Linked DNA regions of Homo sapiens: regions 2, 3 and 4 are each linked to region 1. Evidence: fine-mapped expression QTL. A gene starts in region 1. Each other region holds a variant in brackets. All regions are shown on one strand. Distances are between the middles of the regions.

Region 1 (7,695 bases):
TGTGTTAATTTCATAATGATGACAGAAGATGAAGCACACATCTCGGTGTGACTGAGCTGTGTGCCAATTATGTGGCAACGGAGGACCCATGTCCAAGGCATGTCCCTCAGGAGGCGTGGCTTTATGGACGAATTATGAACAAATGCACATGAAGCCTGGTGTCAGGGACTGCACCTTGTCCCCCAAACCACCCCCAGCCCTTCAGCACATGCCACGGCCACTCACTTGCTGTCCTGCAGCATGGACCCTCCTGTCCTCCCGCACAAGCCGGTTTCTACCTTAGGGCCAGCTCCTGCTGTTGGAACCCGGACACCTGGCCTCCCTTGGGCTACTCGTTCATGCTCCGGCCTCAGCATCAAGGTCACCTGCTCAGAGACTCATGCTGGACTACCCAAGCTAAAGTGGTCCCACGATCATGCACGTGCTGCCCAGCCATGTGCCTTCCTGTGTGCTCCTGCGTGCTAGACGTCAGTGCACTGAATGCATTTATCTGTCACATTGTCACTTGGTCTCCTGTCATTGGAAGGGGCAGACACCATCGCTGCCCTAATGAAGTTGACGTTCCCGGGCAGCATGGGCACACAGGGGAACTCAGGAATTCTCTACTGGCCTCACTGCCCCTTCCCATCCACAGCTGACTCTGTCCCAGCCTCAGTCCCTCCCAGCATCCCCCTAGAACTTCAGAGCTACCTCCCATGAGGCACCAGGGGTTGGCATCCTCTTGGGGACAGCAGTTCCTGACCCCTCCTGTCTCATGCCTACACTGTGCACCTCTTAACGCTCAGTCTTGTGTTTGCCTGGACCCTGAGCCGTGGCTGGACAGTACAAGAGTTGCACCTGGACAGTACAAGAGTTGTGCCCTGAGCCCACAGGCCCCTCCAGGGCTGATCTGCACTGGCCAAATCTTAGGACCCGGCATTCTTTTGGGAGCTGCTGTTTCCCTACAGATCCTTCCTGTTTCCTGACTGAGAGGCAGGTGCCTGGCTTGGTGTTTGAGGCTCACAGCAAGGGTGAGGTTGGAGGGTCTCCTAGTTAAGTGTGCAGATGTCCCCATGAACCCCTCTGCCCCCCTGCACTCTTGTCTTCTGCAGGACTTGGTATCCCTAGGTCAAGAGCCCCTTTGGACCCTCAGACCAGAGGACTGTCCATCCCCAACTGCCCGGGCCGGGGAGGCGTCCTGGGCTCTGGCTGTATTCACATTCTCCCGCCTTTTGGGGTCCTGGTTACCTGCAGGTCCTCAGCCTCTCCAATCTTCAGAGTCAGCTTTCTACCTGCTGTCTGAAGTCTATTAACATGTCTTCCCTTCTCCTGTTCCCTCTTAGGTGGTGGTGGGGACGTTATATCTTTTATTCCTTTTCTGCCACTTTTAGGGGTCAGAGGGAGAGGAGGAGAGGCGATGATGTAAGTTCAGAGGCTGCGTGTTTTGGGAGGAGCCCTGGGGAGTCTGATGTGTGCACCGGGTACGCAGGGTTCCAGGCACTGCCCTGCCTTGGTACCTCCCCTTCCAAACGCTCCTTCACCACTCCTGCTGGGATGGGCACCGAGGGCTTCCTCTGAGGCAGGTGCTGAACCCACTGCCTTCTGCGTGCCTGCTGGAGAATGGCAACTTTGAGGGAGAGCAGGGAACAGAGCTTCGCAGCTGCAAGGGCTGAAAACTCGGCTCTGTGCACTGGAAGTTAGAGACCGATGCGTTTGTGCTAGCCAGGCAGGGAGAGCTGCGGTGGCTGGTTGGTCAGGTAACCTAGGTTATGCTGCCATAAAAATACCCTCTAAATCTCAGTAGTGAAATGCATGCCATGTGTCCTAAGCGGGTGCATGTCCAGGTGGGTGCATGTCCTAGGCGGGTGCATGTCCAGGCGGGTGCATGTCCAGGCGGGTGCATGTCCTAGGTAGATGGGCATGGTTCCATTCCTTATAGTCCCCAAGGGATGGGGGCTCCTGTTGGCCCAGAAGCCACACAGACTTCCCGTGCTCACATTTCATGCATCAGGCGGTTAGGGCGGGCGGCCACACTGAATGTCAAAGGCCGTGGGGAGGCAGGGCTCACAGTGGCTGAATGACAGGGTAGACAGTTGTGTGCGGTGGGAGGGACGGGAGCGGGAGACACTGGCCTTGGAGCCATGTTGGGGATCCGCTCATCGTCCGGGCGGGCAGCAGGAAATCCCATCTAGGATTTCACCGAGGAGGAAGAGACCCCGTCTTTGTGTCCTGGTTACAGGGCAGAACTTAAGGAGGTAAAGGCTTCCTAAAGTCAAACAGCCCGGTAGCAAAAACTGATTCTTCAGTGACAAGCGCCAGGGGCAGGCGGCGAGGCTCCATGCAGAGCCGCGCCTTCTCCAGGGCACTCCAAGGCGCCCAGCACTTTCCGCGCAAGGTCGCGCCTGGCCCTGCGCAGGGGCAGAGGTGCCCGGAGGTCAAGCCGCGCCCCAGGCCTCCGAAATACGCCGAGTGCCGAGGCCCCTGTCGCATCTGGACAAGGGGACCCTGGGCGACTCGGGCACGCGGTCTCAGGCCGGACGGGGGTCGCGAGGATGGCACGGGGGTGCCCGAGAGCGCGGGCGCACGTGCTCAGGGCTTAGCGCCCACCCCAGGCGCCCGCGTGTGCGCGCGCGCAGCCAGGCCCGCCCTGCCCCACCCCACCCTCTGGCGCAGCGCTTGGACTCAGCCTGCCGCCTCCTGACCGTGAGCCGGGCTCTGCCCGGCAGATTCCCGCCGCCCGCATCCCGGGCCTGCAGCCCGGCCTCACCCTGCGCAAAGCAGAAGGCTGGAGTTTAGGGCTCCCCGCACTGGGCGGCGGAAGCCCGCGCGCCGGCTGTTTTCACGAAGAAGGCAGGGGAGGGAGGCCCCCGGAGACCGCGAGAAGGTCCCGCCGCCGTGCCGGGCACAGCAGTCCCCGTGCCAGGGACGCCGACCTCCGGGGCCCCAGGATACCCGTGGGGACGCTCCCTGCCTCCCTCGCTCTCGTACCCGCCGTCTAGTCTGAGCCGTGGTCCCCGTGTCCCGGCGAACCACAGCCCCCATCCCTAGACTGGTGGCGGCCACCCACTCCCTAGCGACACTCCAGGCACTAGCCCCGCCCCTGCCCCGCCCCCGGCTCGGCCCCGCCCCTACCCTTCCCGAAGCTCCGCACCTGCCACGCCCCGGCGCTCAGCTCCGCCTCGACCCCTTCCAGGAGCTCCGCCCCGCCCCCGCCCCTTCCAGAAGCCCCGCCCCTGCCCCGCCCCCAGCGCTCGCAATCTACGGGGCGGGTTCCACCGCCCAGAAGAGCGCACGGCGGGCGCTGCCGGCCCCGAGCGCTCCCGCTACCACTGCCGCTCCCGGCCCTGCCGGCCGGCCATGCCCCGAGTTCCGGCTGCCGCGCGCACCCAGACCCGGCGATGAGGAGTGGCGCCGAGCGCAGGGGCAGCAGCGCCGCGGCGTCCCCGGGCTCGCCGCCCCCCGGCCGCGCGCGCCCCGCCGGCTCCGACGCGCCCTCGGCCCTGCCGCCGCCCGCTGCTGGCCAGCCCCGGGCCCGGGACTCGGGCGATGTCCGCTCGCAGCCGCGCCCCCTGTTTCAGTGGAGCAAGTGGAAGAAGAGGATGGGCTCGTCCATGTCGGCGGCCACCGCGCGGAGGCCGGTGTTTGACGACAAGGAGGACGGTGAGTGCGGGCACGGGGACGACGTGGGGGCCGCGCGCTATTGCAGGGGCGGGCGCGGCTGGGCGGCTTTTTCCCGCAGGGGTTCCCCCGGTGTCCGGGACGGCTTCCCGGGGCGCCCCGGCTTCCGGAGAAGCTCGCGCCGGGTGGCTGCGGCCCCACGCGAGTTCTGGGCGCCCGCCCGCGTCCTCCGTTTCTAGTGGCGGCGCCGCAGGAGGAGCAGGCTGGGCCCGGGCCCTCGGGGCGAGGGTCCCCCGCGGCTGTGGCGTCTCCGGGCTTGCGCGCGCCTCCGCCCACCGCCCGTGGCAGCCCTGCTTTCCGCTTTCCGTGATCCGCTCGGGCCCACGTGCGGGCTCGTTTGTACTTTGCAGTTAGAGAGGCGCTCACCTGTGCCGCCCGAGTGCGAGTGAGGCTCCTGCCCCACAGGTGGCGGGGCCCGGCCGCTCAGAGGCTCAGTCTCCTTGGTGACCGCGCGGTGTCCATCCTCTGCTCACCCATGTGCGCTGGAGGCAGGGCCAGGCCGTTGTGCAAAGACCTGCCCTGCCAGGAACGAGTGCGCTGCTGAGTCCTGTAGATAAAGCCGCCAACCCCGGGGACTGGTGTCTCCTGAGTGACCGTGCAGCCGTGGGCGCCATAGAAAGCAGAGAAGGCAGGTGAGGTGACATGGGACAGGCCTGCAGGGACACCTCCCGGGGTGCCAGGGGGCCCCGGGGACCCCCGAATTATCACCTGCAGGGAGATGTGGTGCCGCGTCTGCCTGTGGGCACTGTAATACAGTCACATGCAGACATACAGCTCTTTTCTACAGGTAACATGCAAATCATTTAAAATCGTACATTGATGACACATTTCATGTTTTTTGACATTTTCTTAAAATACTTGAAATGTGCATTTTTCATTTATAGATAGCGTGCAGAGGTATGATGGATCCTTCAAAATTTTAGAGCCCAGCGCTCAGGAGCCAGGCTATTTACTTGCGATAAATAATTTAAGCATTATGGGAAATTACAGTAATACGACCTCAGGCCGGCGTTGGTGAGTGTGGGGCCGTGCACCGCCGTTCCTCCGGGAGACGGCACCGGGGATTCATGGTGTGCTGCCTAGAAGGAGGGCTGAAGGCCCAGCCACACCAGGCCCCACACGCTCCAGGGTGGCCCGTCACTGTGTCCTGAACTTCGGGACAGCAGAACTCACGATGGTGAATGTTTGAGAAATGTTTTTGTTTTTAACATAAATATTCAAAGTAAAGAAAGCCCAGAGTGAACTAGGAGCTGATCAGGAGGCAGATTTGCCTCTCGTTTCTGGCTGCGGGTTGAGAGAACGTCTGAGAAACGCATCTGGTTTAGCACTTGCTGGTGTCAGCCAAGAGCTGGCTGCTCTTCTGGGTCTCGGCACCGTGCTCTCCGGGGGTGGGAGTGGAGACAGTGGTGTGGCACTGGGCTGCCTTCAGCTTTGTAGGGTAGACTTCCCTGTGTGTTCACAGTGTGTTATGTCACAGAATTCAAGGATCACTAGAAAGGCAAAAAGAGCAAGCACAGAGTCTGTCTGTGGGGCTCACGGTCTGACTTGGGAATTCTTTCACATCCCCAGCATCACCGTATTTGCCTGTAGTAGGACGGCAGAGATTCGGCTGACGGTGTCCCACGGATGCTGCTGGCTCCGTATGGCTTGGTATGCAGCCACATCCCCAAACTGAGCACCCGCCGGGACTCAGCTGGGCTTTGTGTGGTGAAATCAGGAGGGCAAGACTAGGCCCTGGCCCGAATAGCAGAGGACATCTCTGGGCGGTGACCGCTTCCCTCCGCTTCTTCCTGTCACTGGCAGGGCACAGACAACTTGGGAGTCATAGCACAGGGTTTGCAGAAGAATGTTCTGCACCTCTGAGTGTGGATGCCGGGGACTCGTGTTGGTGGAAGGGATTCAGTTTGGAAGGAGAAAGGAGAGTCTTTTAGGAAGGGACTGTTGCCCCTGAGTCCCACCCCTTTCAGGTTGGTGCAGTCATTTGCCTGGTACTTTCGTGGCCCCGTGGCAGCACTGGCTTAAGGAGGCCCTGGTGCTGTGTTGGTGTCTCGAGTTTACTGAATCTGCACGGTTGCTATGGCAATGCTAGACCTTCCGATGAATTTTTTAGATTAAAACACCTAATTAATATATCAAATTTAGTATGCAGAGAAAAGGAAAAAAGAAATTAAGAGTGCTGTTTAACAAAGTGCCAGGTAAATTTCAACTGATAGGCATAGTTGCGACATATAAGACTAAATGTCCTCTGTTCCTTTTAATCCTTGTGGACTCCAGAACCATTTTCCTAATTTGGCAGATATTTGGTGCATGTACAGAATTCTCTGCACGTCTTTGTCATGCCAGAACTGAGGGTCTCCAGTTTTCCTTCCCCTCAGCCCCTCACATGCTCCCATTCTATCCCTTCTCTGACTTCGGTGAAAAATTCATTTTTGGGGTTGAACTTGGTTAGGGGGTCTTTCTGCTGCTGCTCTGCACCAGAGCTGCATGGCGTTGGGCGAGCCCCTTCATTCCTCTCTGTCTTGGTGTCCTGGTGATACCAAGTGAACCTGAGAGGAGGCTCCGGTACCTTCCCGCTAAGCAGCTCTGCAACCTGGGGGGCGCTCGCCCGTCTCGGGGTCACAGCATTGAGTCTCCAGCCTGACGTGGCATTAGCCCGCCAGCAGGAAGTAGCTCCTCCCTGAGGGGCTTTGCCTTCATCTGGGGAAGGCTGGAGTGGACAGGCCCTTGCAGGCTGTGGACGGCCCGCCCTGGGCGCCGGGCCGGGCAGGCAGTGAGGCAGGACCAGGGGCCACCAGACTCCTCAAGTCATCTCTTAAAATTAGAAACACCTTTGTTTTTTCCTAATTATGAAAGCATTAAAATGTATGCATTTAAAAACATTCTATACTTTATGCCACGGTATCTGTAACTTCAGCATTGGGATCACGGTGTCACCTCCCAGCCTTTTTCTGGAAATACAGTCCCAGGTACAGCCGTGGAGAAACACTCTCTCTTTGTTAGCAGAAGTGGGATCCTGCTCTGCATGCCAATTTGCCGTAAGGTGCTTGTTGATTCAGCGATATGTTGCCAGCCTCTTCCAGACCTGAGGCATCATTTGTTGGCTGAATTTACAACAGTTCTCAGCCCCAGGCTGTGGACCCGAGTCATTCACTGGGCACTCTTAAAAAATGCAGATGCTCAAGCCCCACACCCGTGAACTGTGGGTGAACTGGGGGGGTTTGGTGGGTTGGGGGTGGGGCTCAGGGGCTCAGGCTTTTTTTTTAAGCCCCTCTTGAGTTTTACCAGCAGTCGAGGCTGAGATTCCCGACTCTGCAGTGCTCCCCTGAGCAGCTGTGACTTTCTCTGCTTACTTAGTTTCCTGTCACAGGACTGTGAGGTGTTTCTGTTTTATAAATATCATAAACGACGTATTGATGAACATCGTTGCAGATCTTTGTGCACTTGGCATTGTTTCCCTAGGATACATTTTTAGGAACGACATTGCTCAGGCAAAGGGGTCCGTGTGAAATACCTTAACACGTGTGGCCGCTCAATTGGTCCCTCTCTGAGCATTGTTTATGGGCCATGCTGTCGTGGGGTAACCGGGCAGAGGGGAAGCAGAGAGACTGACAAGACAGGGAGGCAGGAGCGAGTGCAGTGGGTGGCGGGAGGCACCTGCAGGGGAGAGAACCAGACCACCTGCTGCCAGCGGAGCTGGCGGGAAGGGAAAACCCATTTTCACTTGCTCCAGGAGCGGGAGGGTTTGATCGCCTTTTCCCCTGAATCCTCTCCAGCTTTGGGTATCAGCAATGTTTCTATTCTTTGCCAGTCTAAGAGATTAAAAGATGGCACTCATGCTTTGAGTTTCTTTGATTATCAATGAGGTTCATCATCTTTTTACCTTAAATGTTTAGAGCATTCAGCTCTAAACACATTTCACGTGTTTCCACACTTTTTGAATTGCCTGCCCGCGCTTGTTAGCGGCATGTGTCCTGTGGGATGGCAGCCGCAGGTTCCTCTCGCCCTTCCTGGTACACAGGCTGAGCCTTCAGCAGCTTC
Region 2 (7,695 bases), 39 kb before region 1:
GACTGTCCCTCGTCTTCCCCATCTGCACGGGAACAGCAGTGACTGTCTCAGTAGAGCAGAGAGGGCAGGCATGGCCTGTGCTCTGGGACAGGGGTCACCTGGGGTGCGTGCTGGGCACTGGCCTTTAACCTGCTGCTTTTGGAAGGGCAGGTGGCCCAGGCTCTATGGAACACCAGGCTTCCCCTTGTGGTCTCAGGGTCCTGAGGGGTATGGAGGAGCTGCCCCAGAGGAAGGCCTGCTGGACGTCAGAATCAGGCTGGGGCAGTGATGCTCCGTCGTACTCCAGCTCCATGTTTGATGACTTCAGAATGCTTTGATTCCCTCCCAATATAATTTTGGGATTTCAGGACCAGACCATTATTTACCTATGATTTTTACATAACATCACTTTTCTTGCAAGTATTTTGGACATGAGCACTCAGCCTTATAAGCAGGCCCAGGCCACACGAGTCACCTTGGACCGGGCCTGCTGCTCTCACCATGCCCACTGCTCCCTGGCCAGAGAACACAGAGGAGCACCAGCTTCCCGAGTCCCAGACCCTCAGGAAGGGCCACCACCCTGAGCGCAGACCAGGGCCATAATCTTAGAGCTTCTTCTTAATACCTGTGACCCCACGACAACCTGACCAAGTGGGGAAACTGAGGCCCTGATAATGCATGTGAGACCACAACCACCCCGTGGGAAAGCTGAGGCACAGAGTGGTTCTCTATGGCTCACCCTGGGCAGAGGCAGCAGAGGGGGAAGACAACACTCAGGGCCCACCCAACCATGGGGCAGGGGCTCCAGGTTGAGGCTTCCTGCCAGAGACTCCAGTTCTCTGCTCCAACTTCCCAAGCCACCCAAAGCAATCTCCGAAGGCTAGGGTCTAGTATCCAAATCTGACATATTGATCAAATTATAAGTACGATTAATAAGCATACCACAATTCACTTGGATTAGCTATTATTAGGGTCCCTAACAATAAATAAATATTTGAAGGGAGGAGGGAAGAAAAGAGGTTTCTAAGCAGCAGGCTCAGGATATTCCTGCCCTTTCACCGTGCGACTGTGTGGACTAAGAACACCACAAGCGTGCTGGAGCGTCCGAGGCCTCGCTGTAGCTGGGAACCTGCTGTGTGTGCTGCTAGGACATCCTACCCTTTAATCTTTTAGTGATGCTTCCAAGGTTTGTTTTGTTCTGTTTTGAATGTTCAAACCTACAGGACAGCTGAAAGATCAGGGCCATGAGCGCTTCATGCCAACACCTCCGGGAAGGTCTGGTGCCACTGTGAACCTGCTCGTGCTGGACGCTGCGTGGAGCCTGAGGGACCACAGACCACTGCGGCCTCCAAGAATCTTCACCCCCAGGAAGCCATTGTTGTCCCCTCGGCTATGACAATGTGCCCCTTGAGAATGCATGATCTAGATTCACCAATTGTTATTTTGCAGCATTCTCTCTCTAGATGTTTACACACACACAGGCACACACACCACATGCAGGCACACACACGCACACCACAGATACATACCTCCCATATGTGTAGGCGCACGCCCTACCACGCCCATGATTCGAGTTTTTCTCTCATGTAGTCTCTGCAGAGCCTGTTTCCTAGGGACCCTTGTCCTGGGTGTGAAAGGAAAATAAAATCTCGGCCCCCAAACTCACTGTACCAAAGGCAAAGGCAAGCTTTGGAAGTGGGCCACACAATGACTGCCTTCCTTTTGTCCCCAGGCAGCTGCCATTTATTTTCTGCATAACTGACCTTTCCCCCAACTCCTCTCTTTTCACAGGTAAAATGTGGATTCAGTGAGCACTGATCGAAGCCTCACAAGAATGTGCCCACTTGGCTCACTGCCTGCCCCCACTTTTACTGTTCTTTCCTCCTTTCCCTGCTGCCCATTCTTTCTCCTTTAAATGCTGACATCCTCAAAGCTCTCTCTGGAGAAAGCACAGGCCACAGATCTCACTGTCGCTTATGTCTCTTTTCCCCGGGCGTATCCTCAACCTTGGCAAACTCAGCCTCTGAATGGACTGAGCTCTGCCGCAGATGCTCCGGGCTTGATGCGGGTCCCCGTTACCCTAAACCTGGGACCGGCACTCACTGCACAGTAAACGGTGGCAACGTGGAGGACACTTTAAAAGCTGGACCTGATGTTTTCAAAGATAATTTAAAATAACTGTATAAATTCGCAAAGATCAAGAAAATCCCCCGTTGCTTTTCAGTTTTACCTGAAAACGTGTCTTGGCTTTGGTAGTTCTTTCTCAATGTTCAAGGCCGCCTTGAGATTTGGAGGTAATTCCCTCGTCAAGAGCTGATCTCCCAGAACGTCTGCCTTCACGTGCTCAACAATCTCCTGCCTCAGCTTCCAAAAGCGCCTGATCTCCTCCTCGCTGGGCCAGTTCTCTGAGGAGTCCGCAGACTTCCTGAGTTCACTCAGGTCTGGCTTTTCCACAGGTGGGAGAAAGCTGGCCTTCTCTTTCATCACAGCCCCCTCTGGGTCCTGAGCGTTCACAGCTCCTTGGTTAGACGCGTGGTCTCCAGACAACTCCAGTCCTGGGCTCGGGAGGTCACGGAGGGTCATCTCTCTAACCGGTGGAGCCTCTGGGAGAGTAAGAAACCGCTTTAGTAGCTACCATCAACGCCATCCCTCTGTGACTTATTCAAAAAGCCAGTGACGGCCTGGATGGTGGGGGGTGGGGTGCCCAGATCCTCCATGGCTGCCACGTTCCCTGTCAATCCAAACAATTCCCGTCACCCCACCTGCCACCTGCACCACGCCAGCCTGCTGCGGCACACAAAGCAGTTCCACATGGAGGGAATGGAAACAACACTGCCAGAAGCACACCTGGACTCTCCCACACAGGCCCCACCAGGCGCACCTGACCCTCCCCGCAGGCACCACCGGGCGCACCTGACCCTCCCCTGCAGGCCCCACCAGGCCCCACTGAGCACATCTGACTTTGATGCAGGCCCCACTGGGAGCACCTGACCCTCCCACGCAGGCCCCACCGAGCACACCTGACTCTCACGCAGGCCCCACTGGGTGCACCTGACCTTCCCATGCAGGCCCCACTGGACATGCGTGACCTTCCCACACAAGCCCCACAGGACACATGTGACCTTCCCACACAAGCCCCACTGAGCACGCCTGACCTTCCTACACAGGCCCCATGAGACACGCCTGACCTTCCCACAGAGGCCCCACCAGACACACCTGACCTTCCCACACGGGCCCCACCGGACACGCGTGACCTTCCCACACAGGCCCCACTGAGCACGCCTGACCCTCTCACACAGGCCCCACCGGGCGCGCCTGACCTTCCCACATAGGCCTTACCACTTTGGAGGGACTTTTTGCATGTGTACACAGGGCAATCTTGCCACATTTAATCAACATTTCTGCTTCCCCTCAGATCACTTAGAATCTTTGTTTCTAAGTAATGTTTAGCCCATTATGCCTGCTTTTCTTGTTTGGTGATGCTTTTGTTGACTTTCTCAAAACACGACCTCAGAGAGGCACTCCAGGCACTTTGGGAGCCACTGGGACCTATTGGCCAGTCTTCTCCCAGCACGTGCCCAGCACGACCTGAAGGCTGAGTGAGACCCCAGGTGGCCGTCGCAGTGGACACAGGCGCATGGACATCACGCCCCTGGCTGCCACATGCTCCTGACTGCTGCGTGCTCAGGGTCTTAGGTTTGAAAGGAAAAGTTTTAAAAAATGGGCAAACATGCTTCAAAACGTCCTAAGAAGTTGTAAAATTCCCCCTGGGGTACAAGTGACTAGAAACATGCATATTTGACCAATCTGCCTGTGGACAACTGATTTAGGGCCAGGGACAAAACTGAAATTCATGAAAATGAAAGCAAACAGGAAGAGTGGGATACAGCAAAAAGACTTTTATTTATTTATTTATTTTTTTAAGACGGAATCTCGCTCTGTCATCCAGGCTGGAGTGCAGTGACACCATCTTGGCTCCGCCTCCCGGGTTCACACCATTCTCCTGCCTCAGCCTCCCAAGTAGCTGGGACTACAGGTGCCCACGACCACGCCCAACTAATTTTTTGTATTTTTAGTAGAGACAGGGTTTCACCATGTTAGCCAGGATGGTCTCAATCTCCTGACCTCGTGATCCGCCCGCCTCGGCCTCCCAAAGTGCTGGGATCACAGGCGTGAGCCACCACGCCCGCCAGCAAAGACTTTTTAAAGTAATTGAAAGGACAAAGTACTAAAAATATACATAGTAGCTGAAAAATCACTCTATGTGGCCCTAAAACCTAATAGAAAAGAGTCAGAAAATACTTATTTTTGACCAGTTACTTAATGTATTTTTTTCAAACTTACAGAAAAGTTGCAATAACACCGCTGAGAAGTTGATGGACCCCGCACCCCATCAGCAGCCGCTGGTGCCTGGCCCCCGAGGCTGCTGCCCCCATGAGCCTACCCGCCCTCGCCTCTCTGTCTGGGGTGCTCATGCATTTCCTAAAACACTCAAGGGTAACTTCAGACATCCTGCCCCTCCACCCTCAGATGGAGATGCTCACACATCGCCATAGCGATTCACCAAAACCAGGAGCGTCCCATCGCTGACTTCTGTCATTTACTGGCTGGCCTTCCTCACACCTTGATAACTGTCCCAGTAATGTCCTTTATCATATTTGTCCTGGCCCAGGATCCAATCCAGGATGAAGCATCACATCCAGTTTCCTATTCCTTTAGTCTCCTTCAACTGGAATGAACCTTCAACTTCTCCTCTTTTTTATCCTGATCCTCCAGCAGGGTCTGTCCGTGTCTCCTGTGCTCCCTGTGTCCTGGCTCCGGCTGTGCCTGACGGTTCTGCCCCTCCATCCTTGTCCCAGCTGTCTCCAGGTCCTGGTCCTATCTCTCCTCGGCCACCCCATGCCCTCAGCTACCTGCCCCCACTCCTGCCAGGTGCCCAGTGCCCTCCACACTGCCAGTCCAGCGGCTACTTTTCTTTTCCTATTTTTATCACAACATCCTGGCAGCATCGGGGTCAAGGGTGCCACAGCCAGGCGGCTTCAGCGCAATGCCCCAATGCAGCCACTATAACCTGGTTAAAATATGTCTACAAACAACTCAGCAAGCACAGGGCCAACAGCTGACTCTTAATCATTTAAAACAATTTCCAAATAGAGTCCATCTGGGTCAAAAGTGCAAGGCCACACGTTATTTACGAAGACCTAACCCACACATTTCAATTGCAGCACATCTATAATCACCTTGGCTAATGTTCCAAACATGCATTTTTCTTAAGTATCAAAGTACATCACAAATAGTAAAATTTTAAATATTCTGACAATATTTCAGAATATGTACTTTTTTTGGCAAGGCTTCATTATGATTCTCCT[T/C]TATCCCAATTTAACTTTACCTTTTCCAAGTGTAACTACAATGCGTACTCAAGACCAGAACACATCATGAGCATCTGAAAATACCTGGCTGGTCAGTATGTTGAAAGAATGGAACAGGTTAGTGAGCACCCACCAACAAGGTGATTAGATAAAACATGTCTACAGGGCCATTTTCCTGCTAATTTCTTGTACCTCGTTAGGAATAAGGAATATTTCATTGTACTTATTTTAAAATAGCTGCCTAATGCAGCATCAAGTCATTCCTGAAGCAGCCGCCTGCGGGTGGCTTGGAGGTGATAACTGTTTCATTTGATTGATCACAATAAACTTCTACCAAAATCCACTTGAGCCAGGATCTATAATGTGCCCAGATTTATAGAACCAAGGAAAAGTCACAGAGATGACTGGGTCGGCCTGAGATCAGTGTACACTGTGTCAACTCAGCAGAGGACCCATGGCTCCTGTATTTCTCAGGATGTTATTAAAGAGAAGACAGGTTCTGCCCTGATTTTAAAAAGCTGTAACTTCAACGTTAATGTGATTTGTCATAAATCACCTCCTACAAACCTTGAGAAGTTGGATTTCTGGGGAGAGAGTGTTCTACTGCCCACATCCGCAGGAAGCGCTGGATAGCCACCAATCCCTTCTGCACAACGAGCTGAGGAGGGAATTCCAGAGGGCAGTGTCTTAGGTTCAGTGCTTTCAGCGTGGTTACGCTCCCTGCAGTGGAGGAAAAAAAAACTGTCAGCATTCTATATACCATTCTTGAAATGAAAATGAGGAATAAATAATAGTAACTTTTCACATTTTAAAATATGATTCTATTCAGTATTTGGGGGAAAATCACGTTAACAGATGTCAAAGATTTGCTTTAAAGGTAACTCTGCAGGAGACGGATTCCGCAAATTAAGACCAGGATGGTTTCCAAAAAACAAATAAATAAAATCAAACAAACAGAAGCAGCCACAACCACCTTCACAATTCTGTAAAATTCAGAATACAAAGTCGCTATATTATCTAAAATGCCCATTTTCCACATAAAAACTACCAGACATGCAAAGAAAAGGAAAATGTACCCTACACTCAGGAACGGAGCAGACAATGGAAACTGTCTTGGAGGAGGCCCAGATGTTGGGTTTAACAAAGACTTCAAAGCAACCATTTAAATATGTTCAAGCAAATGAAGAAAATTGTGTTTAATTAGAAGAAAATAGAATACAAGGACTCCACAAATGTGAAATGTCACTAAAAATGGAAATTATGTGAACTTGGAGGCTTTGGAAACGATGGCCGCTGAGAGGTAAGGCTCCCGTGGTGGGCAGTGGGCTGGTGGGGGCTGGCTCACTCCCCAGGCTCAGGGCGAAGTCCCCGGAATGAGGAGCACGGGGAAGCACTGCAGGGGCCCTAGTCCTGTGGCGTTTCCCAATCTGAGGGAGCCAGGGTTCAGTGTGAAAGATGGATGCTTGGATTTTGGGTATTTGGGTGTCCCACCTTTCAGCCGCGCTCGCTTTTCACATGTAGGTTAAGTATTAGGCTCTACAAACTGCAAATGCCTTGTTGGCCCTGTCCATTAATGGGCTCTGCCCTGAGCTCACTGGTCCAGTTGGAAAACAGAGACTAAACTAGAAGCTACCTATCTAAATGAAATTCGTTTCCTTATCAAATCCTGTGGCAAGTGACTCTGTATTATCTTGTCATCCATTTTTAGTCTTCAAACACACCCAAACTCCTTCTTTAAAAAGCTTAAATTCTCTCTCTGTTCTTTGAAGTGTAAATTTGCTATTCTGTTTTCTCTAAAACTGTGTAAGGGTTCCAGCCATAACTCGTTCCATTTACAAAGGCACAATTTAACCTAACTGTTCTTTTATTTTTGTTTTTTGTTGTTGTTGTTGTTTTGTTTTTAGAGAGAGGGTCTCGCCCTGTTGTCCAGGTTGGAGTATAGTGGTGCAATCAGAGCTCACTGCAGCCTTGAAGTCCTGGGCTCAAGTTAGCCTCCTGCCTCAGCCTCCTAAGTACCTAGGAACACAGGCATGCACTACTGCACCTGGCTAATTTTATTTTATTTTATTTTTTGTAGAGATGGGGTCTCACTATGTTACCCAGGCTGGTTTCAAACTCCTGGCTTCAGGGGATCCTCCTGCCTTGGCGCCCCAAGGTGCTAAGATTACAGGCATGAGCCACTATGCGTGGTCTCAACTGTTCTTTTAAACTAATGAGTTTTATCTGATTCATGGCTAAAAATAAAATCAAAGCTATACAATCTTAATGTTTGTACTTTTATGTATACATGCGTATACATGTCTGTTTTTATACTGTCTACATGGTAGCAAGTGACTTACAAATAAAT
Region 3 (7,695 bases), 63 kb after region 1:
CTGGTGCTGGAGCAGCCTCTGCCTCGATGACATAATCTCTGGGCGTGCATAGGTTTTCTTGAGGAAGGAGGCTAGGATGCAGGGTGGGGCAGCTGCCGCCTGGAACGGGGGCTCGTGGAGGCTGTGTCAGCTTGTGGGTGTCGGCCACGGGTCTTGTCTGTGCAGCACGGCCCGTCCTCTGCGGCCTTTCTGCCCAGTGCCCAGCTCTGATGCCTGGCAGCCTCTTCTCTCACCCCTTGAAGCCCCACCCCCTCCGTCAACTTGGTCCCAACCTCCTGTGCCAGTCAGTGCCCCTCTGGTCACTTGCAGTGGGGAGTGCCTTTCTAAGGCGCTTAAATCAAACCGCTCTCCCCACCTCTGCGAGTCAAGCCCCACTACCGTCTTGTGCAGAGGAGACCAAGGCCACAGGTCACAGCCCCTTCCTCACCCCCAGGTGCTCTGCTGACTGCCCTCCCACTTCACCCAGGACCAGCTTGTGGGTCTGTCCATACCCTTGGGGTCCTTTTCCTGCCTGTGCCCAGGCTGGCCCCTCACCTAGGCACCCCCTCCCTTCCCCCAGCTGATGCCTACTTGTCCTGGAGGGCCCAGCACAGGCGTCCTCTCCCCAGGATGCCACCCTGCGCCTTCAGGCCAGCTCTGCCCTGTGCTCGGAGCCCTGAAGCCTCCGTGGGTCCTTGTCACGGCACCCGTAGCTCAGGCTGAAAGAATTCTGGGTGTGTGACTCTGTCCCCAGGGCCCATGAGGATGGACACTTTGCCTGCTGCGTCTATGCTGAAACCTGGGGCTATCCTGGGGTGCCCTGGGAAGGGAGTGGGCATTTTCCAGTTCAGAGGAAAATGCAAAGAAACCTTTCGTCTAGAAACTGTTCTGTCTCCTCCTCCACACACTGAGTGCCTAAAGCACTTGCCCCACCAGACGGCACAGGGTACCGCCAGGGAGCAGTGGAGATGAGACTCTAGGCCGTGCCTCCCAGGAGGGGTCAGTACCTACCCTGCTGTCTCCCCGGGTCTGCCTCTGGCCTTGGCTGTGTCTTCCCTGCCTTTAGAATAACCATGTGTGTAGGGGGTTGTTCCAGCTGTCGAATTCCCCAGAGAATAAGTGAACATGAGGCTGGGGTAAAAGTGGGTAAATAGGTGAAATGTCATGAACCAGCGGGTGTCCTAAACCTGGCTTCAGGGCACAGTGCTGGCCCTTCATGGATACAGCACACTGAGGGGTGCAGACCTGGGGACACGGACTTAGGGGTGCAGAATTGGGGACACAGGCCTGGGGACACAAGTGGAGGCAGCTGCTGGCCTGGGAGTCATCTGGAGGGGCTCGTCCTGGAGGCCAGGGGGTGACATTGTGGGACCCCCGTCTTATGTGTACGGAGAATGTCCTGGGTTTGAAAGGCAAGTGCAGACGGTCTGGAAAGCCCATCAGAATCCCTTTCCTTGGTGTGAATAGGGCACACGGACAGGTCTCACGAGTGACAATTAGGGGAGCCGTCCTTCTCCCGGAGGGACTTGCAGGTGTGGGAAATGGTGCCTTCTGCAGCTTCGCACAGGCTTGCGGAACGGCTCTCATGCTGGGCGCAGGCTCTCCCAGGCTACACAGGTCATGGTGGACATAGCCACAGCCCTGAGCCGCCTCTCGTTGTTCATCTTGGGGCCGTTTGCAGACTCCCCCAGGCTTGCCCAGTGAGTGCCAGCAGGGCTGACACCCCTGTCCTCTGGAGACGCGGAGCAGGGTGGAGGGGAACCAGGAACAGCTGCTCATGTGTGCATGGCTTCCCCCAAAACCCCAGGCCTGCCTGTCTGGGGGTCTTCACTGGATGGAGCAGCTTTCAGTGGGGGTGGCTGGTGCCTGGGAAGACAGCCCAGTCGAGTCTGGGACTCAGGTGTGTGTGGTTCATTCTTGCCCCATCCATGCTGTGGCTGAGCACATGCCTAATCCCATAGCAATCCTGGGAGTAGGACGTGCAAGACCCAAGGCCCATGTCTTCACTGACCGGGGCTCAGCCCCCTCCTGCCTCGCACAGGAGCGAGAGTTTGGCCCGCCCCACGGCGACCCTCTTCTAGGATGAGGGGCCCTGGGCAGTGTCGGGGTGGGGGATGTTGAGGTGGGGGAGCTGCTCTGGGGTGGGGCCTTGCTGCCACCTCACCAGGTGTCCCTCTGTTTTATCCTGCAGTGAACTTCGACCACTTCCAGATCCTTCGGGCCATTGGGAAGGGCAGCTTTGGCAAGGTAAGGCAGGGCCTGGGGTGGGGACTGGGCTGAGGGGGCAGGGGCAGAACCGTGGAGTCGGACATGCTGTCCCCTGAGCCCACCTACTCCCATCCTCCTTGGGAGAAGCAGCCTTACCTGGGCAGAGGCTCCAGGTCTTTTAGGGAGGACGTGGGCACTCCTGCCACGGAGGCAGCTGGCTGTGCCGCCATCAGACTGGGCCCCATGGTGTCACCAACTCCGCAGCGTCCAGGAGCCACCAGGAGGACAAAATCGCAGCTTTGGCTGAACTGGAGCCTAGAGGCCAGGCTGTGCCTGCGGCTGCTCCTCAGGACCTACAGGGGACAGGACGGAGGGTGGGTGCTGAGCGTGCATCCTCAGCTGGTCCTTGTCCTCATCCTTATCCCTGTCTCCAGCCCCGTCCAGAGTGCCCTGCTGCTGTCCTCCAGATAGGCCTGTTTGCCGGCCTGGACGGAGCCCGTTCCTTTACTCTCCTTTTGTTTTCTCTTGACCAGATCTAACTTCCTGATTGCCGCCTTGTAATATCTAGAGATTGGGGGTAATTATAACTCAAAGAGGCTTAACGAGCACTCGGAAAAGGTTGGAATTAGCCCTCCGGCTTCTGCGCGCAGCTCTGTTGTGGATGAATCACTTCTGAATGGACAGTTCTTTTCAGCTGTCCCGGGAGGCTTAGCAGATGGGTGCTGCCTCCCTCCTGCTCCTGGCTGTACAGCTGCCTGGACACTGTGTCTATTTAAGCCCCATAAGCCCTTTTTAAAGCGATTGCCATGCTACCGGAGCATAATACGTAGGGTATTTGAATGCGATTAATTACCTCCATTTCATTGTATAGCAAACGATGGCTCCACTGGGTTACTTGAGGCCTGGGATGATGAAAAGTCAGAGCAAATGAGCCCCTTTGCGCAGTGCATTGAGAAAGCTCCCGTGCACCAAGAAGAGAGTGCTTTTGAGTCCCTGCATGTTGGGAGGCGCCCGTGGACCTGCACCGTTTTGTTGCTGGTGAGGCTGGTTGACCATCGAGGTGAGGTGCTGAAGCTGGCGGAGTTCGTCAGAGACGCTCAGGGCTGTTGGGACTGACTCAGACCCTCCTGTCCTCCCAGCTGAGCCTAAGTTCTGTTTCCCAGGCCCACAGCGGGTGCACGAGGGGCAGGCAGGATGGAGTTTTGGGGGACTGCTCCCCTCTGGCAGCGGAGGACGGCAGCTGTGACCA[G/A]GTTCAGGAGAGGTGGCTTAGGGGGACCCTGGGAGTCACCAGGCATCCAGAAATCAGGTTCAAGGAGGGAGGTTGGGAAGCCTGGGCCCGGCCAGCATGTCTGGAGAGGGCCAGGCCGAGGGCATCTGAGGGGCAGAGACCTGCCCTGGGGAGCGAGGCTGGCGGGTGCAGGTGCTGTTTCCTGGGGCCCCCAGCATCTCCCCATTGCCCCTGTTGCCCCCGCCTCTGCTGGCCCTGCACTCCTGCCTGGGGATGGTCCCCTCCTTCTCATGAGCACAGGTGGGCAGCCTCAGCCCTGCCCACCATCTGTAGACTGCCAGGGTTCTACTCCTTGGACCAGTCCTTAAGAGGCTCGGAAACGCCAGCTGGCCCAGAAATGGGCGGCTGTGGAATGCGGGGAACAGGAGCGAGCTGCTGGGTGCCGTGTTCAGATGCGGGGTAGTCGTGCACCTGGAGGGTTCCTTCCGGCTCACAGTTAGGCCTCCTCATCAGGCCTGCAGGGGTTCTGTGCGGCGCTTGTTGATGGGTGCCTGGCACTGAGGGGAGGGTGAGGTGAGGCCTGTCACTGACCTGGAGGGGTCCTTCCAGCTCTTTCACTGGCCAAGGCAATGACCCCATGGCAGGAAGGATGAGGGCTGAGAAGGGTGGTTCTGCGTGTGGTTGGGCTGTAGCTGTGTCTGCTCACATGTGGCCTCAGTTCAGAGGGGCTGCAGCAGCAGGGGCCCCAGCCACCCCTGTTTCCCTGCAGGTGGTGGTGGGCCCAGGCTCAGCTGTGCCCAAGCCCTGCCAGTGTTTGAGCCACCTGTGAAAATGGCTCCGGGTTGAGGGGTGGGATCCCCTGGCAGAGCACCGGAGCCCACCCGTTCAGGGCGGCGCAGCATTTAGAGTCTGACCGGGTAGAGTCGGGTCCTGCCAAATGGCCCTGGTGCAGCTGCTCTACCACCAGGGCCATGGCTCCACCCTCGGGGCCGCCGCTCTCGGAAATGGATTATCTAGACCTGGCCCTTGGCTTTTGTTTTTGTTTTCAGTTTTTAAAAAATTACAGTGAATTACACATAACAAATTTACCATTTTCACTGTTTTGAAGACAGCTTTGAGGCATGAAGTACATGGTGCCCCCGGTTCTGTCCGGCTGAAAGTGGTGGCGGTAGTTAATTCCAGGACTAACCACTTAGCAGGGAGGAATCTAGACTTGGAGAAAATCTGTTTCTCCCTGCCATGGACATTCGTCCAGCCTGCCCTCCGCCCCTGCCTGCCCCCTTACCCGGCATAGACTTCCGTCCAGCCCACTCTCCACCCCCGCCTCGCCCCCAGGCTGCTCAGTGTGATTAGAAGCCTGCTGCCTCCTCAGCGTCCAGCCGGGGTTCCAGAGGCTGCGGTGTCTGAGAGGCTCGCCACCTCCCCAGCGCTGCCTAATTGTGCTTGTTCAGAATCCAGGACATCGCATTCCAGCCTTGGGCTGTGGATATCTCAGGCTGAGGGCCATGATCCCAGGAGCCACAGATGGGGGCAGCCCCATTCCTGCATCCTCCTGTGAGCTGGTGGGTGGGTGGCTTGGATGCAGCTGCCCCAGGGATGAGGGGAGGTCGCTGCCCCAGGGTCTCTCTGGGACCAGGCTTGGCTGGGGGGTGCAGACCAGTGCAGGTTGGGCTGGGCATGAACCCCAAGCCCATGCCGAGCCCCGGCCCCTCTGGCCTGTAAGGTGGGCCCCATCTCTGGACACGCATCTCTTAAAAGCCATTGACCTTTCCGGTCTGTGGTTCCCCTGGGTGGGGGTACAGCGTTTTCCTGTTCTTTGGGCCCAGGTTTCCCAAACCAAACGTGCCATGGAGGAGCCGCCCCTCTGGCTGCCTTCTGAGGCTGAGAGCCAGGTCTGTGAAACGTGCTGACAGTAGGCACAGGGGCAGGAGGAAAAGCATACGAATTTATTATTAGTGTTACGTGTGCAGGGCATCGTGGGGGAAAAAGAAAACACCCAAAACAGTGGTGGGCCCCAAGGGCTGATGTGCAGGCTGGGAGAAGGGGGCGCGGGGGGCCGCATGGGGGGCACACAGCTTTTGGGGAGACTACAGGGCCCTCGGAGAAGCAGCGGGGGCTGTGATGGTTTGTGACTGAGCCTGAGGCGGGGGTGGATCCTGGCCCCTCTCCCGGGGGAGGGTCCCTCTTCCTGGGCCGCTGGAACTGCAGGGGGGCTGTGCTGGCAGTTCCTCTTGGAGTGTCTGTCTTTAGGCAGATGAGGGGAGTTTGGAGAGAGCCCCCCCAACCTCAGGTGCTGTTTTCCAGTGGTTTCTGCTCCAAACAGTCAACAACGCAGAGTTTACTGGTGCCGTCGGAGCCCCTTCACCACCCGTGCCCTTCCGTCCTCCTGCTGCACTCCCCCCACTCGTCCCGTGTCCTGGGTGCCTTCAGCCGCCCTCCTCCCAGCAGCTCCCAGCTCATGGCCCCTCTCAGAGGACACCAGCCCCTGGCCCCCATACATGCTTGAAGGCCGTCTGCACCCAGCACTGCCTCATTCACGATCAGGGCAAGAAACGTTCTGTTCTGGGGAGAATGGAGTCCATCTGGAATTCAGCATTTTTTCAGTCAGGGTCTCACTGTGTCACCCAGGCTAAAGTGCAGTGGCGTGATCTCGGCTCACTGCGACATCCACCTCCCAGGTTCAAGTGATTCTCATTCCTCAGCCTCCTGAGTAGCTGGGACTACAGGCGTGTGCCACCATGCTCAGCTAATTTTTTTTGTATTTTTAGTAGAGACAGGGTTTCGCTATGTTCTCCAGGCTGGTCTCAAACTCGTGACCTCAAGAGATCTGCCCACCTCAGCCTCCCAAAGTCCTGGGATTACAGCTGTGAGCCGCTGCTCGTGGCTGGAATTCAGCACTTTTAAGTTGGCGGGCTTGAGGTCTGGAGCTGCTTGTGGACAGCCCGTCGAGGGTGCAGGCCTCTCTCTGGGCTTCCCGCTCTGTCCCCTGAATGAAGGGTTCGCTGACCAGTGAGTCCGCAGTGTTCTGGAGCCTCTTCTACACTCTGCCAAAAATGCCGGCTCTTCCTTCGTGTTTATTTTTCCACACGGACTTCTGAATACGTCTTGTCAAGGTCGAAAGTAACCCCGCTGGGATTTGGATAGGAGTTACGTTTTCAGATTAATTGAGAGCAAAGTTGAGATCTTACCCATCTAGGGGTCTAGTGTCTTTTACCCAAATAGGCGTCTGCTTTTTCATCTTGATTCTTCACATTTTGTTCCGTTGATGATACGTCGTTCCTATGGTTATTCTATGTCATGTTGTTACGTGGAACTTTTTGCTGCCGTGACTAACAGACTTTATTTTCTAACTTTTCCCAGTGTTAAATTGTCGACCTTGTCGTTGAGCCACTGCCTGGCCCTGAGCCCTGCCTTCCCGCAGCTGTCAAAGGGGCAGTCGGCGTCCTCTTTGGATGCCTCTTTGGAGCCACGGCTGTGCTTCTGGCTGGAGGAGTTGGGTGGGCTGGGCGTGTGGCTCTTGCACCCAGCCTGGGCAGCAGGTGTGGGTGGAGGGTCGGGTTTGGCTTTGCCAAGCTGTGGCTGGTGCTCCTGGGAATAACAGCCAGGCCCTCACTTAACTAGGAGTGTTTGGGGTGTGAGTGCTAAGTGCTGGGAGATCGTGTGTTCCCGTTGACTTCTGTAGGGGCAGAGGCCGGATTTCCACTCGGCCAGAATGCTGCAGGGAGCACCAGGACGCCAGCTTGACGGTGTCTGATGGGCACAGCTATCAGGAGGCAGAGGCGTGTCTCTAGGGGTGTGGTGCCCCTTTGGGGGTTCGAGAGCCCCTTGCCCAGATGGATTTCTCGGTGGCACGGCTGGCTGTTGGGCAGTGGGCACAGTTGGGTGCAGCCCCGCCCCTTGACCCTAAGTGGGTCTCTGCCCTCTCCTCTCTAACCCCCCTGGCTGGCTGGGCTCCTCGCCCTGCCCTGCGCACCCCTCACCCCAGGCCATCCCCCTGTCCGAGGGAGAGAGAGAGAAGCACAGGCGCACGGCGTCCGCATTTCCCAGGCTGTGGGGAAATAACTAAGAAAACAGGTCAAAAGGCCTTCACCACAGCCCCCACCCACCCCGAGGAACCGCCTGTCCTTGCAGTGACCCCACATCTCAGATGGACCCAACAGAGAGGCAAGAAGAGGATGAGCATGTTTGTGGGTGAAGAAGGTCTGCCTGGCCGGGCTCCCCAGCTCCATGCCCCCGTGCAGGGCCTGTGTACGTGGCCTCTGGATTCCACCTTACCTGGG
Region 4 (7,695 bases), 90 kb after region 1:
TCAGTTGTGTGTGTGGGGACGGCCATGTGAAGCCCTCACACTCACCCAGGTGTGTCGACATCAGTTGTGTGTGGGGGGACGGCCATCTGAAGCCCTCACACTCACCCAGGTGTATCGGTGTCAGTTGTGTGTGCGGGGATGGCCACGTGAAGCCCTCACACTTGCCCAGGTGCGTTGATATTAGTTGTGTGTGCAGGGATGGCCACGTGAAGCCCTCACACTCACCCAGGTGCGTTGATGTCAGTTGTGAGTGTGTGCAGGGATGGCCACGTGAAGCCCTCAGACTAGCCCAGGTGTGCTGGCTTTGGTTGTGTGTGCAGGGACGGCCATGTGAAGCCCTCACACTCGCCCAGGTGCGTCAGCATCAGTTGTGTGTGTGGGGACGGCCATGTGAAGCCCTCACACTCGCCCAGGTGCGTCAGCATCAGTTGTGTGTGTGGGGATGGCCACGTGAAGCCCTCAGACTAGCCCAGGTGCGTCAGCATCAGGTGTGTGTGCCGGGACAGCCACGTGAAGCCCTCACACTCGCCCAGGTGTGCCGGCTTTGGTTGTGTGTGCGGGGACGGCCACGTGAAGCCCTCATGCTCACTCAGGCATGCTGGTATTCTGGGGCTGCCAGGACAGGTGACCACGAATCAGGTGGTTGAAGAACAGCAATGCGTCTCTCTGAGATGGATCTGAGTCGTAATGAAATGGTCTCCTTCACAGCCGGCTGTGCGTGAACTACTCTGTCTCCTGCAGCTCCCCTGTCTTGATAATTGGCTGTCTAGGCAGCGGGTAAGGTGAACCCCTTGGGCAGTTATGTGATGATCTCAGTTTCTGTAAATCGGAAGTCCAGGCATGGTGCAGCTCTGTTCCCTGCTTCGGGGTCTCACCAGAATGTGAGCTAACATTGAGGTCGTGGCCTTGTCAGGTGCAGCTCTGTTTCCTGCTTCTGGGTCTCCCCAGAGTGTGAGCTAATATTGTCTGAGGTCGTGGTCTCATCAGGGATTTGACAGGTGCTGTGGTTGAAATGTTTCCCTTAAAACTCGTGTTGGAATTTGCTTCCTATTGTGATGGTGGTAGAGATGGGACTTTTGGGGGCTGATGGGGCCACGTAGGTTCTTCCAGCATGGATGGGGTTAATGCTGTTGTAGAAGGGTGACTTTAGTCCTCTTTTGAGTCTTTGATCCTCTGCTATGTGAGGACGTGGTGTTCCCAATGTGGACGTGGTTCGTGTTCCATGTGAATGTGATATTCACAATAGAGCATCAACAGGCTCCCTTTTAATCAGCAGATTTAAAAAGAAATGTGTTGTCTCATGGCTTGGAGGCCTGAGTCCAAAGTTAAGATGTCAGCAAAGCCGTGCCCCCTCTGAAGGCTCTCCGGGGAGGAAAACCAGTCCTTGCCCCTCTACCCTCCGGTAGAGGCTGCCTTGGCCTAGACGCATCCCCCCAGCCCCTGCTTCGCTGCCGCGTGGGGTCGGCCTGTGTGTGCGTCTCCATCTCCTCCCCTCTTCTCATAAGGACACCAGGCATTGGATTTAGGGCCCACCCTGATCCAGTATGGCCCCATCTTATCTTGATGATATCTGCAAAGACCTCACTTCCAAATGAGGTCACATTCACAGGTACCCAGGATTAGAATTTGAGTGTGTCATTTTTGGGGACACAGTTTGGCCCATACCACCAGGATGTGGCTGATATTCACCAAGGAGTAGCTATGGTTGTGTGTTGATGTCAGGGTGACGGTGATGACCCTGGGTCCCTCGGTGGTCCCCTTGCCCCTGAGTCTGCCTGAGCCTGTGGTGGATGTCCTGGGAAACTCTTGTGCCTCAGCCCCCGTGCAGCCTCCTCAGACCTGGTGGGCCCTGTGTTGCTCCTGGGCAGAAGACGGGTGTCAGTCCCCTCCTCACCATGATGTGGGGGGCAGGGGTGGGGTCATGCCCTGGGTGCCCTGATTTTGGGGGGAACACGGCCCCCCAGTGGGTCAGGCTCCCATCCTCGCCCCTCCTCCAGGACGGCTGCCGGCAGCCCTGGGTGTCCTCAGGCAGAATTGCTGGTGGAGAGCTGCTGTCTGCCAGGTGGCCACTGTGAGGCACTGCTGAGAGCCACAGGATGGTTGGAAGGTTCTCGGGGTTGGGGGTTCTTTGGCATTGCCCCCATTGGATGTTTAAGTTTTCCCTACCAGAGCATGTCCAGAGCCAGGGCTCTGGGGTGTAGAAACAGGCCCAGGATGAGTTAGGAACCCTCATGGGAGACTCAGGGATGGACAGTGTGCAGAGCCCAGCTGGCCATGCTGAGTTCCCAGGAGGCTCTGGCTGGGAACAGGTAAGGCCAGGCACCTGTGAGCGGGAGGAGCTCGGCTTTGTCTTGGGTTGGTTGTGTGGAGATGTTTTGGCTTGAGGGTAGGAGGTGTTCTGAAAGGAAAGCATCACTCCAAAAAAAAAGTCCCACTGTTAACCTTGAGGCTGAGAGAGGTTTTTGGAAACAGCTTTATTTTGATATAATTCACATTCCATGCAATATACAGTGCATCCATGTAAAGCATATAATTCCATGGTTTTTAATATAGTCACAGGGCTGTGCATTCTCCACCACAATCTGATTTTAGAACCTTTTCATGTAATGTAAGAGAAAGACCCCACCTATTAGCAGTCATGCCCCATTCCCCTCTTCTCCCCTCCCCTGGCAGCCACGAAGCTACTTTCCGTCTCTGTAGGGTTGCCTGTTGTGGGCGTTTCATGGAAGTGGAGTTACACACTATGTGGTCTTTGCAGCTGGCTTCTTTCACTTCGCAGGATGCTTTTGAGGCCCGTCCACGTTGTAGCCTGTCAGTGCTTCATTCCTGTTGATGGCTGAGTAATATTCCACATATGTATCACCTTTCCTTTATCCAGTCATCAGTTGATGAGTATTTGTTCTTTCCACTTGTTAACATTTTTCATTATCATGAATAATGCTGCTGTGAACATTCACATACAAGTCTTTGTGTGGATATGTACTTTTATTTTTGGGGGGCACATACCTAGGCATGAACCCGCTGGGTCATATGTGACTCTGTGCTTCATGTTTGGAGGAAACACCTACCCTTTTCTACAGCAGGTGTGCCATTTTATGCCCCTACCAGCAGTGTGTGAGGGTTCTAATTTCTCCATATATTTACCAAGTCCTGTTATTGTCTGGTTTATTTTTTAAAAAATCATAGTTATCTTAGTGTGCAGTGATTGTGTGGTTATGGTTTGCATTTCTCTGATGATATTGAACATCTTTTGAGGTGTTTTATCAGGCATTGTGTCTAGAGAAATGTCTATCCAAATGTTTTAAAATTTTTATTGTCTTTTTTTTAGTCTACTCTGACAATATATTTTAATTGGCATATTTATTTTACTTTATTTTTTTTTAGAGACAGGGTCTTGCTTTATTACCAAAACTGGAGTGCAGTGGTGCAATGAAGGCTCACTTCAGCCTTGACTTCCTGGGCTCAAGTGATCCTCCCTGCCCCAGCTGCCAGAATGGCTGGAACTGTGGGTGTGCACCACCACACCTGGCTCATTTGAAAAAAATTTTGTTGTAGAGACAGGGTCTCACTATGTTGTCCAGGTTGGTCTCAAACTCTTGGAGTCCTCCCACCTCAGCCTCCCAAAATGCTGGGATTACAGATGTGAGCCACTGTGCCTGACCTAATTGGTGTATTTTAGACCATTCACATTTAAAGCGACCAGGGAGGCTGAGGCAAGAGGACTGCTTGAGTCCAGGAGTTTGAGACCAGCCTGGGCAACAAGGTGAGACCCATCTGTATTAGTCTATTTTCACACTGCTAATAAAGGCATACCTGAGTCTGGGTAATTTATACAGGAAAAAGGTTTAATGGATTTACAGTTCCACATGGCTGGGGAGGCCTCACAGTCGTGGAAGGCAAGGAGGAGAAAGTCACATCTTACATGGATGGCGGCAGGCAAAGAGAGAGCTTGTTCAGGGAAACTTTTGTTTTTAAAACCATCGGATCTCATGAGACTCATTCACTATCATGACAACAGCACAGGAAAGACCCGCCCCCATAATTCAATCACCTCCCACCAGGTTCCTCCCACAACATGTGGGAATTGTGGGAGTCACAATTCAAGCTGAGATTGGGATGGGGACAGAGCCAAACCATATCATTCTGCCCCAGCCCCTCCAAAATCTCATGTCCTCACATTTCAGAACCAATCATGCCTTCCCAACAGTCCCCCATAGTCTTATTTTGGCATTAACTCAAAAGTCCACAGTCCAATGTCTCATCTGAGACAAGGTAAGTCCCTTCTGCCTATGAGTCTGTAAAATCAAAAGCAAGTGACTTCCTAGATACAATAGGGGTACAGGCA[C/T]TGGGTAAATTCAGCCATTCCAAATGGGAGAAATTGGCCAAAACAAAGGGGCTACAGGCCCCATGCAAGTCTGAAATCCAGCAGGCCTGTCAAATCTTAAAGCTTCAAAATGAACATCTTTGACTCTATCTCTCACATCCAGGTCATGCTGATGCAAGAGTTGGGTTCCCATGGTCTTAGGCAGCTCTGCCCTTGTGGCTCTGCAGAGTACAGCCTTCCTCCCGGCTGCTTTCGTGGGCTGGCATTGAGTGTCTGTGGCTTTTCCAGGTGCATGGTGCAAGCTGTTGGTGGATATACCATTCTGGGGTGTAGAGGATGGTGGCCCTCTTCTCAGAGCTCCACTAGGCAGTGTGCCCCAGTGGGGACTTTGTATAGGGGCACCAACCCCACATTTCCCTTCTGCATTGCCCTAGCAGAGGTTCTCCATGAGGGCCCCACCCCTGCAACAAACTTCTGCCTGGACATCCAGGTGTTTCCATACATCCTCTGAAATGCAGGCAGAGGCTCCCAAACCTCAATTCTTGACTTCTGTGCACCTGCGGGCTCAACACCACATGGAAGCTGCCACAGCTTGGGGCTTGTACCCTCTGAAGCCACAGCCTGAGCTGTACCTTGGCCCCTTTCAGTCATGGCTGGAGCAGCTGGGATGCAGTGCAGCAAGTCCCTAGACTGCACACAGCAGAGGGACCCTGGACCTCGCCCATGAAACCATTTTTTCCTCCTAGGCCTCTGAGTCTGTGATGGTAGGGGCTGCCGCAAAGGTCTGTGGCATGCCCTGGAGACATTTTCCCCATTGTCTTGGTGATTAATATTCAGTTCCTTGTTGCTTATGCAAATTTCTCCTCAGAAAATGGGGTTTTCTTTTTTTTCTCTCTTTTTTTTTTTTTTTGAGACAGTCTTGCTCTGTCACCCAGGCTGGAGTGCAGTGGTGCAATGGCGGCTCATTGCCACTGCAACCTCCGCTTCCTAAGTTCAAGTGATTCTCCTGTCTCAGCCTCCCAAGTAGCTGGGATTACAGGCACGCACCACCACACCCAGCTAATTTTTGTATTTTTAGTAGAGAAGGGTTTCACCATGTTGGCCAGGCTGGTCTTGAACTCCTGACCTCAGGTGATCTGCCTGCCTTAACCTCCCAAAGTGCTAGGATTACAGGCGTGAGCCACCGTGCCCAGCCAGGAGTTTCTTTTCTATTGCATTGTCAGGTTGCAAATTTTTTGAACTTTTATGCTGTTTCCTTTTTAAAATGGAATGCCTTTAACAGCACCCAAGTCACCTCTTGAATGCTTTGCTGCTTAGAAATTTCTTCTGCCACATACCCTAAATCATCTCTCAAATTCAGAGTTCCACAAATCTCTAGGGCAGGGGCAAAATGCTGCCAGTCTCTTTGCTTAAAGCATAACAAGAGCCACCTTTGCTGTAGTTCCCAACAAGTTCCTCATCTCCATCTGAGACCAGCTCAGCCTGGACTTCATTGTCCATATCATTATCAGCATTTTGGTCAAAGCCATTCAACAAGTCTCTAGGAAGTTCCAAACTTTCCCACATTTTCCTGTCTTCTTCTGAGCCCTCCAGATGGTTCCAGCCTCTGCCTATTACCCAGTTCTAAAAAGTTGCTTCCACATTTTCAGGTATCATTTCAGCAGCGCCCTACTTTACTGGTACCAATTTACTGTATTAGTCTGTTCTCACGCTGCTAATAAAGACATATCCGAGACTGGGAAATTTATACAGGAAAAAGGTTTAATGGACTTACAGTTCCACATGGCTGGGGAGGCCTCACAATCATGGCGGAAGGCAAGGAGGAGCAAGTCACATCTTACATGGATGGCAGAGAGAGCTTGTGCAGGGAAACTTTTGTTTTTAAAACCATCAGATCTCATGAGACTCATTCACTATCATGACAACAGCACAGGAAAGACCCGCCCCCATAATTCAATCACCTCCCACTGGGTTCCTCCCATGACACACGGGAATTGTGGGAGTCACAATTCAAGCTGAGATTGGGGTGGGGAGACAGCCAAACCTTATCACCAGCTCTATAAAAGACAAAAAAATTAGGCAGGCATAACAGTGCATGCCTGTAGTTCCAGTGACGTGAGAGGATTGCTTGAGTCCAGGAGTTTGAGACCAGGCTGGGCAACATGGCGAGACCCTGTCTCTACAAAAAAAAATTATCTGGGTGTGGTGGGATACACCTGTGATACCAGCTACGCAGGAGGCTGAGGCAGTAGGATTGCTTGAGCCCAGGAGTTCAAGGCTGCAGTAAGCTATGATCATGCCCCTGCACTCCAGTCTGGGTAACAGAGAGACACGCTGTCTTGTAAATAAATAAGTGGTCATTTATATAGTTCAATATGATATCTACCTTATTTGTAACTGTAGTCTATTTATTGTTCTTCCTTTTTCCCTATTTTTCTGCCTTTTCTGGTTTTAATTAAGCATTTTATATTATTCTAGTTTATCTCCTCTCCTGGCCTGTTAATTATACTTCTTTTTGAAATATTTTTAGTGGTTGGCCTGGACATTGCAGTATACCTTTACCATACAGTCTACCTTCACCTGACACTCTGCCCCCTCATGTGCAGTGGGATGCCTTGTGACGGCACCTCTCGTGCAATCCTCCTGTTCCTGATGACATTGCTGTCATTCATTTCATTTATCTGTATGCTATAATTGCTCATTACATTGTTACTACTGTTATTTTAAACAGTTATCTTTTGGATCAATTAAGAAAAATTAAAAATTTCATTTTACCTCTATTCATTCCTCCTCTAAAGTGCTTCCTTTCTTTATGCAGACCCAAGTTGCTGACCTAAATCATTTTCCTTTCCCCTGAGGAACTTCGTTTAACATGTCTTATAGGACAGGTCCAACAGAGATGAATTCCTTCCCTTTTTGTTTGTCCAAAAAAGTCTTTACTTTCACCTTTAAATAATAATTTCACTGGATATAGAATTCTAGATTGGTAGGTTTTTTACTTTCAACACTTTAAATATTTCACTCCGCTCTCTTCTTGCTTATGTGATTTCTAACAGGCAGTCTGCTCTAATTCTTTTTCTGTAAGTAGAATTCCTCGCCACCCCCCACCCCCAGCTCATTTCAAGATTTTCTCTGTCTTTGGTTTTCTGCAATTTGAATAATGATATGCCTAGGTACAGATTTTTTTTTAATATTCATTCTGCTTGGTGTTCTCTGAGCTTCTTAGATCCTGTGGTTTGGTGTCTGTCATTAATTTCAGAAAATTCCCAGTCATTATTATTTCAAATATTCTGTTCTCTTTCTCTTCTCCTGCTGGAAATCCAATTATGCGTGTGTGGTGCCGTTTGAAATTGTCCCACAGCTCTTGGATA

The links. PIP is the estimated chance that this variant, and not a neighbour inherited with it, causes the effect. A credible set is the group of variants that fine-mapping cannot tell apart.
Region 2: its variant is the best candidate, but not a certain one, in a credible set for the expression of STK32C in whole blood (INTERVAL, PIP 0.55).
Region 3: its variant is the best candidate, but not a certain one, in a credible set for the expression of STK32C in sun-exposed skin (GTEx, PIP 0.84).
Region 4: its variant is the best candidate, but not a certain one, in a credible set for the expression of STK32C in whole blood (INTERVAL, PIP 0.53).

What each region holds. Positions count from the first base shown.
Region 1 is chr10:132,303,516-132,311,210 of GRCh38, reverse strand. It overlaps STK32C (serine/threonine kinase 32C), which reads left to right and starts at 3,261. Exons shown (of 12, transcript NM_173575.4): 1 at 3,261-3,639. The coding sequence starts at 3,378. RefSeq lists enhancers at 1,448-1,990, 1,991-2,535 and a silencer at 2,788-3,437.
Region 2 is chr10:132,342,871-132,350,565 of GRCh38, reverse strand. It overlaps LRRC27 (leucine rich repeat containing 27), which reads right to left. Exons shown (of 11, transcript NM_030626.3): 5 at 5,916-6,068; 6 at 2,210-2,582. Among named protein-coding and RNA genes, the nearest start is that of LRRC27, 15 kb to the right of the region's middle. The variant T/C (reference allele first, on the strand shown) is at 5,349.
Region 3 is chr10:132,240,431-132,248,125 of GRCh38, reverse strand. It overlaps STK32C (serine/threonine kinase 32C), which reads left to right. Exons shown (of 12, transcript NM_173575.4): 2 at 2,171-2,226. Among named protein-coding and RNA genes, the nearest start is that of DPYSL4, 57 kb to the right of the region's middle. RefSeq lists an enhancer at 4,356-5,240. The variant G/A (reference allele first, on the strand shown) is at 3,437.
Region 4 is chr10:132,214,007-132,221,701 of GRCh38, reverse strand. All of the region lies in intron 10 of STK32C (serine/threonine kinase 32C), which reads left to right. Among named protein-coding and RNA genes, the nearest start is that of DPYSL4, 31 kb to the right of the region's middle. The variant C/T (reference allele first, on the strand shown) is at 4,346.